Linked DNA regions of Homo sapiens. The protein of the gene in region 1 purifies or fractionates together with the protein of each later gene. This does not show direct contact. Each region holds a gene or a part of one and is shown on either strand. Other genes may lie near its edges.

Region 1 (3,654 bases):
GGTTCTGGACTTGGACCTGCTGGTCAGGTGCACATGTGAAGAATTACCATCCCTCCCCAGCTAGTAACAGTGTAGTGGAAATAGCAGGAACCTTGGAGGGAGACAGGTCTGAAAGTTGCCTGTGCAACTTAGTTCTTTCTTTGTGAGAAGGAAATTTCCATTCATTTCCTTATCTGGGAAGTGGGGATTCTAATGTCTGCCTCCCAAGGTTTTTGTGAGAATTAAAGTAGAGAATGTAGGTAAAATGATAGCAAGTTTCCTGATAAGTAGTGGTAGGGATGAGTTAGTACCTTCCGTCCTGGAAACCACCTGTGGGCCCATCTTGAATGATCAGTGTTATGTTAAATTCATATATTCTTTTCCACACTTTGATTAGAATAGTTAAAAAGCCACAGTCTAAATATTCTTGGGTGATAGGATATTGCAAAATTTTCCAAGGGTCTAAAATAGTGGTCTGCAAACTATGGCCTCTGTGCCAAATCAGGCCTGCCACTCCATTTGTAAATAAAGTTTTATTGGAACACAGCTCTGTCTATCATTTGAATATTGTCTAGGGCTGCTTTTGCAGAGTTGAGTAGTTGTGACAGAGACTGTGCAGCATACAAAGCCTAAAATATTTTCTCTCTGGCTTATAATAGAAAAACATTGCCAACCTCTGGTCTGAGATGATTTGCTTGGTTCTTCAGGCATTCATTTCCTTAAGATACTCAGTATCAGGCCGGGTGCGGTGGCGGGCGCCTGTAATCCCAGCACTTTGGGAGGCCAAGGCGGGCAGATCACGAGGTCAGGAGATCGAGACCATCCTGGCTAACATGGTGAAACCCCGTCTCTACTAAAAATACAAAAAAATTAGCTGGGGTTGTGGTGGCAGGCCCCTGTAGTCCCAGCTACTCGGGAGGCTGAGGCAGGAGAATGGCATGAACCCGGGAGGCGGAGCTTACAGTGAGCCGAGATCGTGCCACTGCACTCCAGCCTGGGGTACAGAGCGAGACTCCGCCTCAAAAAAAAAAAAAAAAAAAAAAAAGATACTCAGTATCCTGGGGTTGTACATTGCCAACACCAATGGGAAATAAAACTTGCAGCCAATTCATTAAATAATTTGTACAATGCCCCAAACTGATTTGATTGAATTTCTTCCTTAAAAGTGATAGAACTGTGTATAATAAACTGAACTCCATTTGTTAGAAAGTGAACAAATTGGACAGTTGCTTTTTATTGTTGTTGTTTGTATTAGGGAACAATCTACATGCTAATGAAAGGCAGGCTTGACTGATTTTCTTTGGACTGGCTGATTGTCTTGGTGTCCTGTGGACTTGGCCTTGGAACAGGAAATAATTCGTATCAGATTATTATGTCATGGATATGCCTTTGCTTTCAGACAACTTGAACAGAGCAGAGATTTAGCAAACAGAAAAATTAAGGACTTAAAATTCTCATCAACATAGAACTCTGCTCTTCAGATGTACTCTAGGGTTCCACTAAAGAGCCAATATTGTTTGGGAGGCAGTTAAAGATAAGTAAAATGTGTACTATGCATATAATTTTTGGAAGCCTATCTCCTACATAAATTTAAGCACAACTTACAATGAGAGGTAATTTAGGTTTCTGGACAACCTCTAATATTTCTATTCTATGTTACAACCTTTGCTTATTTAATAAGCCTAGTGAGCACCTTTACTTCTTACCAAGTTGATTCCATTGATTCAGCAGTTCTTTTTTTGAGATAGAGTCTTGCTCTGTCACCCAGGCTGCAATGTAGTGGTGCAAGATCAGCTCACTGCAACCTCTGCCTCCAAATTCAAGTGATTCTCCTGCCTCAGCCTCCTGTGTAGCTGAGATTATAGGCACATGCCACAATGCCCAGCTAATTTTGCATTTTCATTGGAGATGGAGTTTCACTATGTTGGCCAGGCTGGTCTCGAACTCCTGACCTCGAGTGATCCACCTGCCTTGGCCTCCCAAAGTGCTGGGATTACAGGTGTGAACCACCACGCCTGGCCAATTAAGCAGTTCTTGCTGTTAAGGGCAAGTAGAATCCAAAAGAGAGACACAAATTCACGTGCACTGTCTGGAGGTGAAATAAAGGACAAACATCAACCAAATACACAGATTTAATTGGTAAAAAAGCAGATGATGTTCTTGATGGATATTTTACTTCCTGCCCCTTATATTTATTTACTAAAGAAAATGCCAGATTTGTCCCCAAAGTTACTGACTCAGAAGTTTTGAAAGCTCTCTCCCAATTCACACTTGGGATTCTGTTCTTTCATGAGGAACCAAAAAAAAAAAAAAAAAAAATCAAGTTTGCCTACAGCTGTTCATTAAATATGTGGACATTTAATTCATAAAGAAGTCTTATAAATATTTGCTTTTAACTTTCCCATTACAAAGTGTTTTTTCCCCCTTTGACATCTTTCTAAAGTAGTTTATCTTCCCACTTAATGAAGATGTCCACCTATTTCTTATTCTGAGCCAACCAAACCAAAGTTGGCTAATTGATTATGAACATTAACATAATTCTCACCTTTATGAAATGCTTAATAACACTCTAGTTTTCTCATTTTTGTAGAACTGCTTGACAACTAAGTGAGCCTACCTGGGATGGGGAGGCCTTCTCTGAAACCCTCTTGTCCCGCTTGTGTGATACTGGGGACAAGCACTTGTAGGCAGGAGCCAGGGGTTTTACTTTCCATTCTACAGATAATTAGATGAGAGACCTTAAGCAAGCCACCTAACCACTTTGGGTCTCAAATGTTCTAGTGCTGGAATGGAACTTGCCTTTTCCTGGCTAATTTTCCTGGAGATTGAACTTGATTGAGGTTCTTTGCCAGCTCTAATTGCTGAGTTTTCCTGAGTGTTTATACAAAAAATAAATTAAAGTTTAAAATCAGAAGTCCTTAATTTAATAGATGGGATTCTTCTATCTGCTTAGGGCAGTGTTTTTATACCTTGGCTACACACTGGAATGCTCTGAGGAGATTTAAGAAACACAGATGCCTGGATCTCAACCTAGAGCTTCTGATTAAATTGTCTTGGGCATTGAAGGAGAGCTGCAAATGGCTCCCAGGTGAGAAGGCTGAGAACTGCTGACCTGGAGGTTGAAATGGATGGCTTCTAATAAACCTTTGGGCATTGCTAAGAGCAGAAGAATGCTCAATCCTTTTAACAGTGATAAACAAACATCTCTGGGGAATGGAGAACTTATTTGGTGCTATGCAGTATACAAAATGTTCTGTTGGATCAGTTTGGATTACATTTGATTGCTGGTGAAGAGACCTGAAATAACGTAGATTTAAGTAAGACAGTGGTGTCCTTTCTCTCACATAAAAGAAGTCCACAGTAGGGTGTTCAGGATCTTATGGAGTCTCACAGTGCCAACATCATCCCAGGCTCCTTTTTCCTTTCTAATCTGCCATCCTTGGCATGTGGCTCTTGTCCTCAAGATTTTTTTCATAGTTGCCATTGTAACTCCAGCCATTACATCTGTGAGCATCACATCTTCGGACAAGCAAGAAGAAGAAAAAGGAATAGCAAAAGATCATGCCTCCTGATCGCTGCCCCTTCTCCCTCCCAACACACAACTTCTGCTGACATCTGATGCCATTTCTATCTACAAGGGAGAATAGCATAATTGTTTAGCTGGGCACATTGCCA
Region 2 (3,654 bases), on another chromosome or scaffold:
CCTGGTAATTGTAGTTTCAACATTACTTGCAGTTTCAGTTAGTAAATAAATATTAAGCCTAGTAAGTATAATTTAATATTGTCAAATAATTTGGAAAATACCATGGGTACTTAATTGATTTTACCAAATTTCCATGGAACAAACAAGGTTGGCTATTTTTTGGATTGATATTTTGAAATACTAGTACAGGAATATCATTGTTAGTTGAATTTTTAGCCTTAGAAAACAAATGGAGTTTAGATAGCTAAAGTATAATTTATTTGTGATTTAATAATGGTATGGAGTTAGGGCTATGATAATTAGTGAAAACACCCAAGAATGTTTTATACTTTTAAATTTTAAAAATTGAAATGACACTTGGAGTAACAATTGCCTTTTAGGTGATGTGGCAGTGAAAATGTTGAATGTGACAGCACCTACACCTCAGCAGTTACAAGCCTTCAAAAATGAAGTAGGAGTACTCAGGTGAGCTTGTGTGAATTACTCTTTTCCAGAGAAAGAAGTTATTTTTATTAGCTCCTGGTTCCCAGTGGTAGCAACTATTAGCTTTACAGATTTACTCAAAATGAATAAATTTGTAGAAACAGAGTATGTCTGAGTATATTTTTGTCTTTAACCACATTCTTTTAAGTAGTATGCAATGTTATATGGTATGGCTGATAGAATACTTAGTCCTAGACTGAATTAATGGAAGTATAGTATTCTGATAATATAAAGTAATAGTTCTACTTATGAAAAGAATACTCTCCAGTTTTAAGCTTATCAGAATACATTTAGAGGTGGTATTTAGTCCTGGGCTCTGGAATTTTAGAAACATTGACAAACTAGGATATGCCTAGTGAGGACCACCTAAATAGGGAAGATTCTAGAGGTGTAACGGGGGAAAATAATCAACAGAACTGAGGATATTTAGTTCACAGAAGGCTGTTATGTTCAAGAGAGTGCACAGTTATTCCAGAGTGCGGAAAAAAAAGTTATTCCAGAGAGCAGACCAGGGAAGCAAGCCAGAGGTGAAAGTTGTAAGAAAATGATTTTGTCTCAACACTTGGAAACTTTATAATACCAGAACCACTTAAATAAAGATATGAGAGTCAGCTACAACTGAGTGATGAACTTCCCATAGTTGAAGGTATTTAAGCAACCTCTAGTTGCCTGTCAGATATATTTAAAAAGATATCTCTGCATAAAGTAGGAGGTTAGACTTGGCAATTGCCAGTCTCTTCTAAATGTATCCTTTTGTTGCCTTTTTTAAAAAAAAAAAAGCTTTTTCTGACAACATTTTACCGACAGACTACTTTGGTTCTCTTTTGTAAGAATTGCTAAAGTTTGTCGACATTTAATGTTTACTGTCACATTTCTTTGTACAGGAAAACACGACATGTGAATATCCTACTCTTCATGGGCTATTCCACAAAGCCACAACTGGCTATTGTTACCCAGTGGTGTGAGGGCTCCAGCTTGTATCACCATCTCCATATCATTGAGACCAAATTTGAGATGATCAAACTTATAGATATTGCACGACAGACTGCACAGGGCATGGAGTAAGTTCCATTCGTTAAATGTCTTGTAAATTATTTTTGAAGACCATTGAGGATGTTTTAAAGGTTTTGGCTGCTATTCTTTTGGATTGCATTTTAAATTACTGTCCAGGAACATAAGGATGCTAACTAATGGCTGGTAAATAATATGATACTAAAAAATAAATGTCTCTGTCTAGTGCAGCCTTCAGAACATATATCAAGTATTTGATAATAAATACATGACTGCAAACTTAGGCTTAGCACTCAGTGATTGAGCTAAGCAAGAGAGGTTCAGAAGATAGAAACAGCAAAAACCTGCTAAAAAGTTGTTAGCAGTTGTGCAAGTAAACAGAATGGTTGTTAGTTACTTTTTCAAATCAGTTTCTCTGAGTGCCCGTATTTTTGGTTGCAAAATGGTCAGTTAATAAAGTTAAAGTGAAAAATCTGCATTCTGACCCTTTTTGAGGATTTCAGAGTGAGTTCCTATCTGTTGAATTTTGCTATGCAATTTAAGGAGTTATTTTATAAAGTTTACCATAAGCTAATATGGGGAACTGACTTTGAAGGATAAATTTTAAATTTTGCAACTCTTAAGTGCAAATGAATAGGTAAATTAAAAGGTAAAATTAAACAAATTTTGAAAGCACTTAGGTGAAAATTATAAACTCAGTAAAATATGAATTTGAAAGCTCTGTGAGAAGTTTAAAAATAGATATGATCTGAATTTTGTTTTTTACAAATTGCTTTCACTTACATAGATTATTATGTCATTTAATCTTTATAATGTTATGAAGGAGATCTTTTTTCTTTTTACAGATAAGGAAATTGAGGCTTTTAAGTTCCTTGTCTAAGGGCACACATTTAATAAGTGGCACCAAAGGTGTTTAACTCAGGATTTCTGACTCCCAATCCAGTATTCTTTCCCCATAACCACTATGCTACTTTTACATTACAAAATTAGAATAAAAGAGTAAAAGGGTATATATGTACTAACACCTACAACTCTAACTGAGTATTGCTCCTAGCAAGTAAGTATAGAGCCAAGACTCTAAACCAGATCTGGCTCTTAGATCTTCCAACTATACCACCTTCTCTTTCTCAAAACTAGGCAATATATCTATAATTTAGATTGTTTACAAGCCTATATTCGGCCAAAATACTTATTACAGCAAATTATTACCTTATTCAGTAACACCCCCACTTACCCCTAGACTTGAAACAATCTCAACGTTTCAGATAAGTTAGAATCTCTGAATCTGTTCGAATCTAAAGGCTTTTAAAGAATTAAAATCTTGGCCAGGCACAGTGGCTCACACTTGTAATCCCAGAACTATGGGAGGCCGAGGCAGGCGGATCACCTGAGGTCGGGAGTTCAAGACTAGCCTGACCAACATGGAGAAACCCCGTCTCTACTAAAAATACAAAATGAGCCAGGCACAAGCCTGTAATCCCAGCTACTTGGGAGGCTAAGGCAGAAGAATCACTTGAACCCGGGAGGCAGAGGTTGCAGTGGGCCAAGATCACACCATTGCACTCCAGCCTGGGCAACAAGAGCAAAATTCCGTCTCAAAAAAAAAAAAAAAGAATTAAAATCTTGTGAAGAGTAAACCATGGCAAAGATTGTGAACATTCAGTGAGAAACAAAGGCTTATTCTCTTCCCACACCACTGGTCTCTTTGCAATTTCTTCAGCAGGCCAAGCGTGTTCCTTCTTTAGGACCTTTATGTTTGTTATATTCTCTTTAGGATACACATGCCACAAATATCCTTGTGTCTCGGTTCATATGTCCCCTTTTAATAGAAATCCTTGCTCACCTTATATAACTAACATGTCCCCACGTCACTCTGTCACTCTCTATACCCATAGGCTTGATTTTCTTTATAACGCATAGCTCCATCTGACTTGTTTCTTGTCTTTTATCCCCACTAGAATGCAGGCTGTATGAGAGCAGGGGCTTTTTTTCATTATTTTATGCCTAATGCCTAGAATGGGACCTGGCATACTCAGTACATAACTGTTAAATGAAAATGATTACACACAACTGCATATTATTGATAGATTTACCTTTCAGAAGAAAGAGATGCCAAATCCTTCTCACATCACAGCTGAGAAATGTGGCTGGGCATGTTGG
Region 3 (3,654 bases), on another chromosome or scaffold:
AATCTTCACTATGGTGCCCAGGCAGCTGCAGTTCAGGCCTACTCAGGCTTCTCATGACATTCATTGTACTTCTCAGATAAAACAATACTTGAAGTCACTAGTTACAGAGAACAGGAATCTATGAACTCATTCCGTAAAACAAAGGAAAATTTATTTTTTCTTCTCTGCATGTTGAGTGCTGGGAGAATCTCCAGAGCACACTAGATAATATTATCAAGGCTTTTCCTGGGTCTGGGCCGTGCCTGTTGCTGCCTCTGGGACAAGTCGGCCTAATACAGGAAAGCTTATTTATCTTTCTTTTTAATTTTATTTTTCTTTAATTTCCCACCTCACTCACTTATAAGTGGGAGCTAAACCTTGGGTACTCAGACATAAAGATGGCAAAAGTAGAAGCTGGAGACTACTAGAGGAGGAGGGAGGGCGTGAGCTAAGGGTTGAAAAACCAACTTGGTATGACGATCAGTACCTGGGTGGTGGGATCATCCATATTGCAAACCTCAGCATCATGCAATATATCCAGGTCACCAGCCTGTACCTATACCCCCTGAATCTAAAATAAAAGTTGAAAAAAAAATTAATTGGAAGGAAGAGGGCTTAAATTTAATCTGCCACTTACACTTAGAGTCCAGTTTTTTTTTTTTTTTTTTAAAGAGACGGAGTCTCGCACTGTCGCCTGGGCTGGAGTGCAATGGCGCGATCTCGGCTCACTGCAACCTCTGCCTCCTGGGTTCAAGTGATTCTCCTGCCTCAGCCTCCCGAGTAGCTGGGATTACAGGTGCCTGCCACCACGCCCGGCTAATTTTTTGTATTTTTAGTAGAGATGGGGTTTCACTATGTTGGCCAGGCTGGTCTTGAACTCCTGACCTCATGATCCACCTGCCTCAGCCTCCCAAAGTGCTGATATTACAGGCGTGAGCCACTGCACCTGGCCCAGAGTCCAGTTTTCTTAAATGGGAAACTTAAACCAAAGTCTATTTTCCTACAAAGTCTTCGTTGGATTTTTTCATAATCTTTTGGATTTTCCATGTACCTTCTCACCTCACCCTAACATAGAAAAATCTTCTCTCTTATTCTGGTTATAAGGTCATCATCATCTTTTTCTTCTTTTTTCTTTTTTTTTTTGAGACAGGGTCTTGCTCAGGCTGGAATGCAGTAGCACAACCATGGCTCACTGCAGCCTGCCTGCCAGGCTCAAGTAATCCTCCCACCTCAGCCTCCCAAGTAGCTGGGACTGTAGGTACACACCACCAGGCCTGGCAAATTACATTTTTTTTTATAGAAAAGGGGTCTTGCCATGTTTCCTAGGCAGATCTCACCATGTTTCCTAGGCTGATCTCGCCATGTTTCCTAGGCTGATCTCCAACTTCTAGGCTCAAAGGAGCCTCCTGCCTCAGCCTCCCAAAGTGCTGGGATTATAGGTGTGAGCTACTACTGCACCTGAACCTTTTTTTTTGATAGAAAATGTGAAAAGTGCGTTAACATTTTGAAGCATGTATTTGCCCCCAATTTCAATGTGTATATATACTCATAAAATTAAAAGACAGTTTTACTTTAAGAAATGAAAAATTAAAAAATTAAACAGTTTTTTGTCCATTAGTTTTTTTGTTTGGTCCTCAAAGCTGTCTCCCTTGGTTGCTCTTAACTTGTTTTTGGGTTGCAAACCATTTTGAGAAGTCGATGAGAGCTGGCCTCCTGCCCAAAGGGATGTAGACAAAAATATGTAACATTTTGCATATCCTCCCCACCGAGACTGAGTCTTGCTGTGTCACCCAGGCTGGAGTGCAGTGGTGTGATCTCAGCTCACTGCAGTGTCCGCCTCCTGGGTTCTAGCAGTGCTCTTGCCTTAGCCACCTGAGTATCCGGGACTACAGATGCCCACCGCTAGGCCTGGTTAATTTTTGTGTTTTTAGTAGAGACGGGGTTTCACCATGTTGGCCGCGCTACTCTCGAACTCGTGATCTACCCACCTCAAAGTGCTGGGATTTCAGGCGTGAGCCACCATGCCCAGCACATTTTGCGTGTTAATTTTAGAATGATCGCAGACTCCCAAAGGTTCACTGATACTTGATTAGGAGCTTTTTTTTTGAGATGGAGTCTTGCTGTCGCCCAGGCTGGAGTGCAGTGGTGCTATCTCGGCTCACTGCAACCTCTGCCTCCCGTGTTCAAGCGATTCTCCTGCCTCAGCCTCCCGACTAGCTGGGATTACAGGCGTGCACCACCACACCTGGCTAATTTTTTTGATATTTTTAGTAGAGATGGGTTTCACCATGTTGGCCAAGCTGGTCTCGAACTCCTGACCTCAGGTGATCTGCCCGCTTCAGCCCCCCAAAGTGCTGGTGTATCTGGAGTTGGTTCCTTCTGGTGGGTTCTTGGTCTCGCTCACTTCAAGAATGAAGCCGCAGACCTTCGCAGTGAGTGTTACAGCTCTTAAATGTGACGCAGACCCAAAGAATGAGCAGCAGCAAGATTTATTGTGAAGTGTGAAAGAACAAACCTTCCACAGTGTGGAAGGGGACCCTAGTGGGTTGCCACTGCTGGGTAGGGTGGCCAGCTTTTATTCCCTTATTTGTCCCTGCCCATGTCCTGCTGATTGGTCCATTTTACAGAGTGCTGATTGGTCCATTTTATAGAGTGCTGATTGGTCCATTTTATAGAGTGCTGATTGGTCCATTTTACAAACCTCTAGCCACAGAGCACTGATTGGTGCGTTTTACAATCCTCTAGCTAGCTACAGAGCGCCGATTGGGGCGTTTTACAATCCTAGCTACAGAGAGCTGATTGGTGCATTTTACAATCCTCTTGTAAGAAAAGTTCTTCACGTCCCCCCCACCCCCGCCCCGACCCAGAAGTCCAGCTGGCCGTTGGATTGGCAGAGGATGAGAAAAATGGGGTCTGGTTTGCTGACACTGTGTCATTACACAAAGAATAGAATGACAGAGTATCCTGTGCTGTCCTCTTTCAGTTTTCGTGGTTATAAAGAGAAGGTATCTTCTAAGGCAGAAGTCATTTGTCTTCAATTAGCAATTTATTGGATTATGGACAGGATTCTATTCATAAGTTTGAAGTTGATTGGCTTAATCTGTGATCAGAAAAGGGTGATTTCGATTGGTTAAAGAAAAAAGAATCTAAATTGTATTTGGTGCCTGTTACATGGAAAGCACTATTCTAAGCATATTGCCTTTATAAAAGGGGATTCATTAACATTGCAAAATAAAGTAGTTATGTGATTTTTGCATTTTACGTGGCATCAAATGTTTCCTGAATTGCGTCTCTTTGTAATTCATTATACATCATCTTTTTTTTTTTTTTTTGAGACAGAATCTTGTTTAGTCTCCCAGGCTGGAGTGCAGTGGCGCGATCTCTGCTCACTGAAACCTCCGCCTCCCAGGTTCAAGTGATTCTTCTGCCTCAGCCTCCTGAGTAGCTGGGACTACAGGCGCATGCCACCATGCCCTGCTAATTTTTGTATTTTTAGTAGAGACGGGGTTTCACCATATTGGCCAGGTTGGTCTGGAACTCCTGACCTCATGATCCGCCTGCCTTGGCCTCCCAAAGTGCTGGGATTACAGGCGTTGAGCCACTGGGCCCAGCCACATCATCTTTTTATGGAGTCATTTTCCATATTTACTCTTCTGGTTATTTTTACCTTGTATA

Evidence for each region.
Region 2: the proteins of POU2AF1 (region 1) and BRAF purify together in Homo sapiens (pull-down; one large-scale study listed by IntAct). This does not show direct contact.
Region 3: the proteins of POU2AF1 (region 1) and ATE1 purify together in Homo sapiens (affinity purification with mass spectrometry; 3 studies listed by BioGRID and IntAct, with this or other methods). This does not show direct contact.

What each region holds. Positions count from the first base shown.
Region 1 is NC_000011.10:111,372,761-111,376,414, reverse strand, and holds part of POU2AF1 (POU domain class 2-associating factor 1), read left to right. Parts: intron 1-3,654. UniProt on the Homo sapiens protein: Transcriptional coactivator that specifically associates with either POU2F1/OCT1 or POU2F2/OCT2. It boosts the POU2F1/OCT1 mediated promoter activity and to a lesser extent, that of POU2F2/OCT2. It recognizes the POU domains of POU2F1/OCT1 and POU2F2/OCT2.
Region 2 is NC_000007.14:140,774,802-140,778,455, reverse strand, and holds part of BRAF (serine/threonine-protein kinase B-raf), read left to right. Parts: intron 1-380; coding exon 381-465; intron 466-1,367; coding exon 1,368-1,544; intron 1,545-3,654. UniProt on the Homo sapiens protein: Protein kinase involved in the transduction of mitogenic signals from the cell membrane to the nucleus. Phosphorylates MAP2K1, and thereby activates the MAP kinase signal transduction pathway. Phosphorylates PFKFB2.
Region 3 is NC_000010.11:121,917,990-121,921,643, reverse strand, and holds part of ATE1 (arginyl-tRNA--protein transferase 1), read left to right. Parts: intron 1-3,654. UniProt on the Homo sapiens protein: Involved in the post-translational conjugation of arginine to the N-terminal aspartate or glutamate of a protein. This arginylation is required for degradation of the protein via the ubiquitin pathway. Does not arginylate cysteine residues.